2 linked regions of the Homo sapiens genome follow. The protein of the gene in region 1 interacts with the protein of each later gene in a pairwise test. Each region holds a gene or a part of one and is shown on either strand. Other genes may lie near its edges.

Evidence for each region.
Region 2: the proteins of SPMIP2 (region 1) and C1orf35 interact in binary tests that used the Homo sapiens proteins (3 or more experiments, as listed by UniProt).

What each region holds. Positions count from the first base shown.
Region 1 is NC_000004.12:159,032,367-159,036,810, forward strand, and holds the start of SPMIP2 (protein SPMIP2), read right to left. Parts: upstream 2,864-4,444; 5' UTR 2,731-2,863; coding exon 2,667-2,730; intron 1-2,666.
Region 2 is NC_000001.11:228,100,526-228,104,795, reverse strand, and holds C1orf35 (multiple myeloma tumor-associated protein 2), read left to right. Parts: upstream 1-1,470; 5' UTR 1,471-1,568; coding exon 1,569-1,662; intron 1,663-1,746; coding exon 1,747-1,897; intron 1,898-2,107; coding exon 2,108-2,153; intron 2,154-2,235; coding exon 2,236-2,318; intron 2,319-2,413; coding exon 2,414-2,486; intron 2,487-2,630; coding exon 2,631-2,716; intron 2,717-2,881; exon of another isoform or gene 2,882-3,061; intron 3,062-3,322; coding exon 3,323-3,457; intron 3,458-3,541; coding exon 3,542-3,665; 3' UTR 3,666-4,065; downstream 4,066-4,270.

The sequences.
Region 1 (4,444 bases):
AGAGAACAAGAAAAATAATTTATGCAAAGTATTCATACAAATTTGTAACAGTAAAAATTAGGAAATTATAAAATACAGGAGGCTGTGAAGCTAAGTATTATATGTCAGTATAATGAAAGGCAGAAATCTATCAAAGGTGACAACAATTTGAACTATGTAAATACATAAAACTAAGTATATACACTGGTGTAAGTTAGAAGAAATTTTAAGTGTTAATTAAGACTCTTGCACAGTTCCAAATGACAGAAAACCCAACCCAAACTGGCTAAGGAAAAGAGGAGATTTATTGGCTGATGAAAATTAAAACTTTAAAAGGCACAAAAATCTCTTCAAAATAGATTATAGACCTAAATGAAAACGTAACATTGTAAAATGTCTAAAAGAAAACACAGGATAAAAATCTAAATGACCTTTCTTTTTTTTTTTTTTTGGTAAAAAAGTCAAAAACAGACAATACCAAAGGCTGACAAGGACACAAAGCAACAAGGACTCTCATTCATTGCTGATGGACATGCAAAATAGTATAGCTAGTTTAGAAGACAGTTTGGCTTAACACAGGATCCAGCAATTACTCTCCTAGGTATTTACCAAATTGATTTGAAAACATATCCATGCAAAAGGCTGCACATAAATGTACATAGAAGCATTTCTCACAATTGCCAAAAACTGGAAGCCACCAAGATGTCTTTCGATAGGGGAAGGGATGAACAAATTGTGACACATCCACACAGTGAAATATTATTCAGTGGTAAAAAGAAATAAGCTATCAAACCATGAAAAGATGTGGAGAAGCCTTAAAATGATATTGATGAGGAAATGAAGCCAATCTGAAAAGACTACATACTGTATAACTCCAGCTCTGTGACATTCAAGAAAAGGCAAAACTGTGGAGACAGTGAAAAGATCAGTGGTTGCCAGGAGCTAGGGGGAAAGGGGGAGGGGGGAATGAATAGGTGAAGCACAAGAGATTTTTTAAGTGGTGAAACCATAACGTATGGTACTATAATGGTGAATACATGGTCCTATTAATTTGTCAAGACCCCCATATATTTAATAGCATAAAAAGCAAACCTTAATGGATGCAAATTAAAAAAAATTATTTACGAGATTGTAGGATTTCAGGAAGGAATTCAGACTGTGACAAGAAAATCTAACTGTATTACAAGTGCATAAAACAACCTTACTGAAGAGGCTAGAAAGAAAATGTGCAGACTTAAGTAACTTTGGAAATGAATAGAGTTTATAAGAATAAAGGCAAAAGGAATTGCAGATAAGCAGTGTACTCTTGTTGACAAAGTCCTTCTCACAGGAGTAAAAAAGAGGTAAGAGTGAGGAAAGAGATGTTTTTCCCAAAGCCAAGTGAGTCACAAGAAGGGGAGTGGATGAGATGGATGATGAGCAACACAAATCATAAATGCCCACCATAAATATGCATTTGATTATTTTTCTGTAACATTGTAAAATATGCTCACACTTTGGAAAAAAAGAAAAAAAGGCCAGGTTCACGCCTGGAATCCCGACACAGGTGGGTGGATCACTTGAGGTCAGGAGTTCGAGACCAGCCTAGCCAACATGGTGAAACCCCATTTCTACTAAAAGTACAAAATAAATAAATAAATAAACAACCACATGTGGTGGCATGTGCCTATAGTCCTAGCTACTCGGGAGACTGAGGCAGGAGAAACACTTGAACCTGGGAGGTGGAGGGTGCAGAGAGCCCAGATCGTGCCATTGCACCCTAGTCTGGGCAACAGGGCGAGACTCTGTCTCAAAAAATAAATAATTTGGAAAAAAAGGAAATAAAATGAAGTTTAGTTTATGCCTTATAGACTTACCACAACTAGTCATCTTCTATTTTTTAGATATTATTATAATTTCACACACACTGCCCAAATCATTTAAAGTAAGCTGAATGAACAAAACTCAAACCAATCACTTTACTAGGTTTAATGCATATCCTGCTCAAATTTTTATCAAGCAAATATGTCAAGTTTATAATGTTATGAGAAGCTTAAATCAGTGTTAATAAAAATTCGATGAAAAGTATGTTTTTTATTACATCAAAGAAGTTTCTCTTGCACAAACCATAAAAGCTATGCTAATTCAAATATTCCTTTGTGAAAGTTACCTCAGATATAGTGACAACTGCTGTGTTAAAGACATGTTTATGGCAACAAGATGATGATGATCAGACTGAGTGGGCATAATGAGATAGCAGTATCATGTAAATTAAATGTAGGTGGGTTGGGCATGGTGGCTGATGCCTGTAATCCCAGCACTTTGGGAGGCCTATGCAGGCAGATCACCTGAGGTCAGGAGTTCAAGGCCAGCCTGGCCAACATGGTGAAACCCTCATCTTTACAAAAATACAAAAATTAGCTGGGCATGATGGCAGATGCCTGTAATCCCAGCTACTCAGGAAGCTGAGGCTGGAGAATCTCTTGAACCCAGGTGGCGGAGGTTGCAGTGAGCCGAGATCGCGCCATTGTACTCTAGCCTGGGCGACAGAGCGAGACTCTGTCTCAAAAAAAAAAACCCAAAAAACAAACAAAAACAAAAAACATATGTGATCATTGCATTGTTATATCCATTATATAAAAATCATATATGTGAGAGAAAAAGCAAATTTAGATCTCCTTGTGAAAGCAAACACAAAAACTATTTACCTGTAAAAATCATTTGTTTTCCCACAGTAGTAGATGTTGGCTTTTGGTATGATACAGATGCCATGGCTAAAGTCTTAACCGTGCTACTGGATTTTCTTCTTCGGCTTCTTCAAATCAGTTAAGCTGCACCAGAAAGAACGAAAGACTCTGCAGTCTTTCCTCTCCCTGCTTGTGACCTGCACCAGGTGGTTGCTAATGACTCTTTATGACAGGGAGATAGAATGTTCCTCCTTGCAGAGTTCTGCATTCCAATCTCCAAGAGCAGAGACAGATACTGCTATAGTCTTCCCAGAACTTGCATCCAGTAATAACTTTTCCTTATTTGTCAATATCAAGTCAGAATACACTTGTTCACAGGTACTAGATCCAGTTCCAGCTTATGTCCCAGATAATCTGGCAGGCTCAGTCACCACTGTCTTTCAACATTTCAAAAAGAATGTCTTGCAGAAATATGTTACAGCAAAAAACAAAAAGCCCCCACAAACCATGGTTAAATATATTTGACAAACACTGGCAAGATAAAATACAGTAAAAAATAACATTAATAAATTAATGAGATAATTACACACACACAAATATATATAGATATATTTCCAGTCTCATATTCCAATCCCTCCTTAAATAGTGCTTGTGCTTTGGTCATGTCAATTTACCTGTGGTTCTCAATCTGTGCAATGCTTTCTCATTGTTCTGAGCCTTTACACATACAATTTGCTCTTCCTGTAATGTTGCTATGCAAATATTTCTTGTCCTTTGACAGCCAAGGCCCACATCTGCTCTTCCAGGAGGATGTCTGCAGACACAGCTAAGTGCTTTCTTCTTCATGTCCCTTTAACCTCTATAGCACTGTGTTTAGATGTATCTTTTTAACTCACCACTTCAATTATTTGTCTATTTTATCGACCTCCCCACTAGAATCTGACTTCTAGGAGTTTATGATAAAAGTATACTTATTTATATTTCAATTTCCAGAGACTTGTATGCAATAAATAGTTAATAGATGTTTGTGGGATGAATAATTGTATGAACAGTAATTCTAGCTTGCACAGAAATATATCGGCTACCTGATAATCCATTGAAGATAAATTCTAACAGTAATTTTGTATTCAACATTAAATATATGGAGTTGTCTACTGTAAATGTAATATCTTTTATATTTTGAGAATTATAAGAAAAACACTATATTAACTCTGGAAAGGCTTACAGTAGGCTTATGGTAGGCAAAGAGATGTGCTACTCAGGTAGGTTCCCTTTCAAGGAAGGCTTGTAGCCCAGCTGGAGGAAGGACTGTCAGCAGACAGTGTCCAGCTGTCAGCACCTTCGGGGTCTGCCTTGGCTGCAGAGAGCTGCCTCCTCTGTCTGAGGTCAAGCCTTTTCCAGGGGAGCCTATGTCAGGTACTGAATGAGGTAGAGGTATAAAGACCAGTCATTTCTCACCAGGTTGGTCAAGGCTGTGTTGAGCCCTTACAGTTCTTCTTCTTCCTCTGATCAGTCCTGCTTCCTCACCTTTCCTTTCACAGGTATTGAACCCAAATAACCACCTTGCCCCCCACTTTCAGAGAACCCGACCTGAGATAACTAGACAGCATAAGCACATATGCACAAATGTATTATACAAGAGTGCTTCTCATTTTAACCACTCAGCCCTCCTAACCAGAAACTGAATATATTTCCCCAATGTGGGCAACTAGAGTCAGTCGCTGTTGTGTTACTGATCTTTGGTGTCATTTTCTTTGGTTCTGACCTGCATTATGCTCTTCTTTACCTTCCTATGGCCT
Region 2 (4,270 bases), on another chromosome or scaffold:
AGTAGAGTTCCCACAAGGGAGTGCCCCACACCATCCTGAGATGGGGCTGGTTAGGATTCTACAGATTGAGCATGCCAGGGTGATTCGCCCAGAGCATTTATTCGTGGGGCTTTTGTACAGAGTGGGCTGCAGCAGTTCTTGCAATAGGCAGTGAGAGAAATGAAGTTCTCTCTAGGTATGTCCGTGGGGGAGGGGGTTGGTGAATGGAATTTATATGAGGGTTTGAGGAATCTGGCTCAGGCTGAGTCCAGTTTCTTTCTGTGTTTTGAGCAACAACCTAGTTACTGTCATCTGTGCCTGGGAACGTTCATGGCTATGGCTCGGGTTCAAGTCTGCAGAGGAAATTATACAGTTGGCGAAGTCACAGAGTGGCCAAGGGACTCTGTTTCTCAGTCAGCACTGGGAATGAAAGTGGAAAGGGGAAGCAGGGGTACGTCACAACCTCCAAAATCAGGGTGCCCAGCACGCTGAGGTTCTGGTAAGGGGTTTCTTCCAGACTGCAGACTTCCTTCCCGCTGCCTTCACACAGTAGAAAGCTGCACAAAGCTCTTGGGGTCCCTTTTATGAAGGCTCTGTCCTCATGACCTAGTCACCTCCGAAGCACCAACGCCTTGGGGTGAGGATTTCACATGGGAGTTAGGGTGCACATTCAGTTTAACACGGCAGGGATAGGACCAGTGCTCTGAGGGTGTCTGGGTAGCTGCTGGTTCATCCAGAAGTTTACTGGGTAATACTCAGAAATTCCACAAATCATTAAGGTCATTACCTTGTTAAGCTCCCGATATGGAATCGCGACTAGCAGTGACCAATTGGCGGTGTTAACTAGGCGCATCTTGTGTGTTTTCTTTTTTCTTTTTTTATGAGACAGGGTCCGCTCACTCGTTCAGGTTGGAGTGCAGTGGCGCGAAGTCCTGGGTTCGAGATCCTCCCGCCTCAGCCTCAAAGCGTTGGGGCTACAGGGGCGCGCGCGCGCCTGGCCCATTTTAACTTCTTATTTTTGAGACAGTCTCGCTCTGTCGCCCAGGCGGGAGTGCAGTGGCGCGATCTCGGCTCACTGCAACCTCTGCCTCCCGGCTCAAGTGATTCTCCTGCTTCAGCCTCCTGAGTAGCTGGAATTACAGGTGTGCACCACCACACCCGGCTAATTTTTGTATTTGAGTAGAGACCGGGTTTCACCATGTTGGACAGGCTAGTCTCGAACTCCCGACCTCAAGCGATCCGCCCGCCTCGGCCTCCCAACTTGCTGGGATTACAGGCGAGAGCCACTCCGCCCGGCCCCGTTTTAACCATTTTTAAACTTCCAGTTCAGAGGCGTTCCCGCGCCCGGCAGGGTAGGCGCAGTGCGCAGGCGCCCAAAGCCGACGTGGAGGTGATGCGCGGGAGCACAGATCCGGGGCAGTGCGCTGCGCAGAGGCGCGCGGCGAAGCCGAGTGGGCGCGGGAGTGACGTCACGGCGCGCGACGCGGAGGCGGGGTCGGGCCTGGGTCCGACGGTAGTGGGTAGCGGGTCTCGGGTTGCGGGTTGCAGGTTGCAAGCCGCAGGCCCCAGGCAACTGCCTTCCCGGCGCCATGTTCGGCTCCAGTCGTGGAGGCGTGCGCGGCGGGCAGGACCAGTTCAACTGGGAGGACGTGAAGACTGACAAGCAGCGGGAGAACTACCTGGGTGGGTGCGCGCGGTGGGCGGGCTCCGGGCTCCGGGCTCCGGGATCCCGGGCGGGCGCTGGACTCACAGCGTCTACGTCCGCAGGCAACTCGCTGATGGCGCCGGTAGGCCGCTGGCAGAAGGGCCGCGACCTCACCTGGTACGCCAAGGGCCGGGCGCCATGCGCGGGCCCGAGCCGCGAGGAGGAACTGGCAGCCGTGCGGGAGGCGGAGCGCGAGGCGCTGCTGGCCGCCCTGTGAGTGTCCGCGGACGGCAGCGGTCGGTGCCTGGGACGGCGCTGCCGGGGCAGGGTGGGGCCGGGGCCGGGGACTGGGGGTCGGGCTGGGCGGGAGCGGGGCTGCGGGGACTCGCGCGGGCGGGACCCTGAGGACGAAGGCTGGAGTGGTGAGGACCTGTGGTGGGAGGAGGTCCGTCCGTCCTGACGCCTGCCCCGGCCCTCTCGCAGTGGCTACAAGAACGTGAAGAAGCAGCCCACGGGCCTGAGCAAGGAGGTAACTCCCCGGGGTGGGGGGCGCGTGGAGGGCCGTGGGTGTGGGGCCGACTCGAGCGCTCCCTGTGCTCTCGCACCTGCAGGACTTCGCGGAGGTCTGCAAGCGGGAAGGAGGCGACCCCGAGGAGAAGGGCGTGGACCGGCTGCTGGGGCTGGGGAGCGCAAGGTGCGGGCGGGTTTCCAGGGGAGGGCAGCACTGGGCTCGATTGCTCGGGTGAGGCGGACCCCTGCCGTACTGTCTTCATCGCCATGTCCCTGCAGTGGCTCCGTGGGCCGCGTGGCGATGTCCCGAGAGGACAAGGAGGCCGCCAAACTGGGGCTGTCTGTGTTCACGGTAATCCCCCGCCCCGCCTGACCGCAGCAGGGGCTAACAGGGGTGGGGCGGGGCGGGGGCACTGAACGGAGCTCCCCGGGGCGCTGCGGGGCGTGGTGTGGGGCCGGCCCGCAGACTCCTCCGCAGAGCTCGCTTCTCCCGCAGCATCACCGCGTAGAGAGCGGCGGGCCCGGGACCTCGGCAGCCTCGGCCAGGAGGAAGCCGCGGGCGGAGGATCAGACGGAAAGCAGGTGAGGCTGTGCCACCTGGGCTAGCTGTGCCCCGGGGTGGGGGGTCTCGGGAGGACCGGAGCGGCTCCCACTCGGGCAGGTGGCAGCTTCTCTTGGCGCACCGGCCCGGCGGGTGGCCTGCCCTACTTTACTTCCTGTCCCAGTTACTCCTAGGTTTTTCTCTAGGGGAGTTTCTCGGGTCACCCTTGAAGAGAGGTCCTAAGTACTGGCAGTGGTCGGGCGCTGTGCCGTGGGAGGGCACTCAGGACCTGGGGCGGGGCCTTTTCCTGCCGTGGGTGGCACCTCCAGGGCTTCTCCTGGATGGTGAGCCTGGGCCTGACCCTAAGAGTGGCCTGGTGGGTGCAGGTAGGAAGGTGTCAACCTGCCAAGGGCACGGCTGGGGTGGGGCAGGGGCGTGCTGTGGAGATGGGGATATTGCATCTGTTTCTAACCCACGTAGCCACTGGCCACGTGACTACGTAACTGAGGAGTGGAATTTGTAGTTTGATTTAACTGATTTAAAGACGCACTTGTGGGTGGTGGCTTCATCTGGATGGGGCCTGCTTGTGTTCACTCTCTTGGCTTGCAAGACTAGGGTCTGAGGCACACCTTGTATCCTCCTTGTAGTTGTGAGAGCCACAGGAAAAGCAAGAAGGAGAAGAAGAAAAAGAAAAAGAGGAAACACAAGAAAGAGAAGAAGAAGAAAGACAAAGAGCACAGGCGGCCAGCTGAGGCCACCTCCTCTCCCACATCTCCTGAGAGGTATGCCCTGGTCCATATCTGCCTCTTGGGGGTGGGGGCCTGGTTGACTCCTTCCGAGTGACTGACTGCCATTGGTCTCCCCAGGCCCAGGCACCACCACCATGACTCCGACTCCAACTCCCCCTGCTGTAAGAGGAGGAAGCGGGGACACAGTGGGGACAGGAGGAGCCCGTCTCGCAGGTGGCATGACAGAGGCTCTGAGGCCTGATGGCTGGACCCTGCTCACTGCTGTTGTGGGACCCTGAACCCTCCCTTCACCTTGCTTGCCTCCTGCCTCGGAAGCTCCTTGGGTGTGGGTGAAGCCCGAGGCTGCTCCTGTGGAAGTGGCTCTGGGCACCAGCCTGTGGGGCTAAAGACTTGACAGCTAGCTCTGGAGCAGCCGGCTTCCTGGAAAACCTCCAGGTTTCGCATACCAGGGATGGCCCCTGGCTTGGCCTGCGAAGGTGAACCTGCCCAGATTTATCAGTAGAGGCTGGACTCCCTCTGTGTCCTGCCCATGGTTGCAGCAGCCATGGGCCTATGAGCGGTCTAACTGTGGCCAAGTATGGTGACCTCTATTTTTCTTTATATTGACTCTTTGTATTTCAATAAATATATTTTAAAAGGAAGGTATATCAAATTGGAAGGTCAGTATCAGGGGTTAATGAGATCCCACTGGAACGTCGGAGCTGGGGTCTGTCTCCCAGGAGTCTGAGACCTGGTGATTTTTTTTTTTTTTGAGTTTCACTTTTGTTGCCCAGGCCGGAGTGCAATGGTGTGATCTCAGTTCACTGCAACCTCCGCCTCGCGGGTTCAAGCGATTTTCCTGTCTCA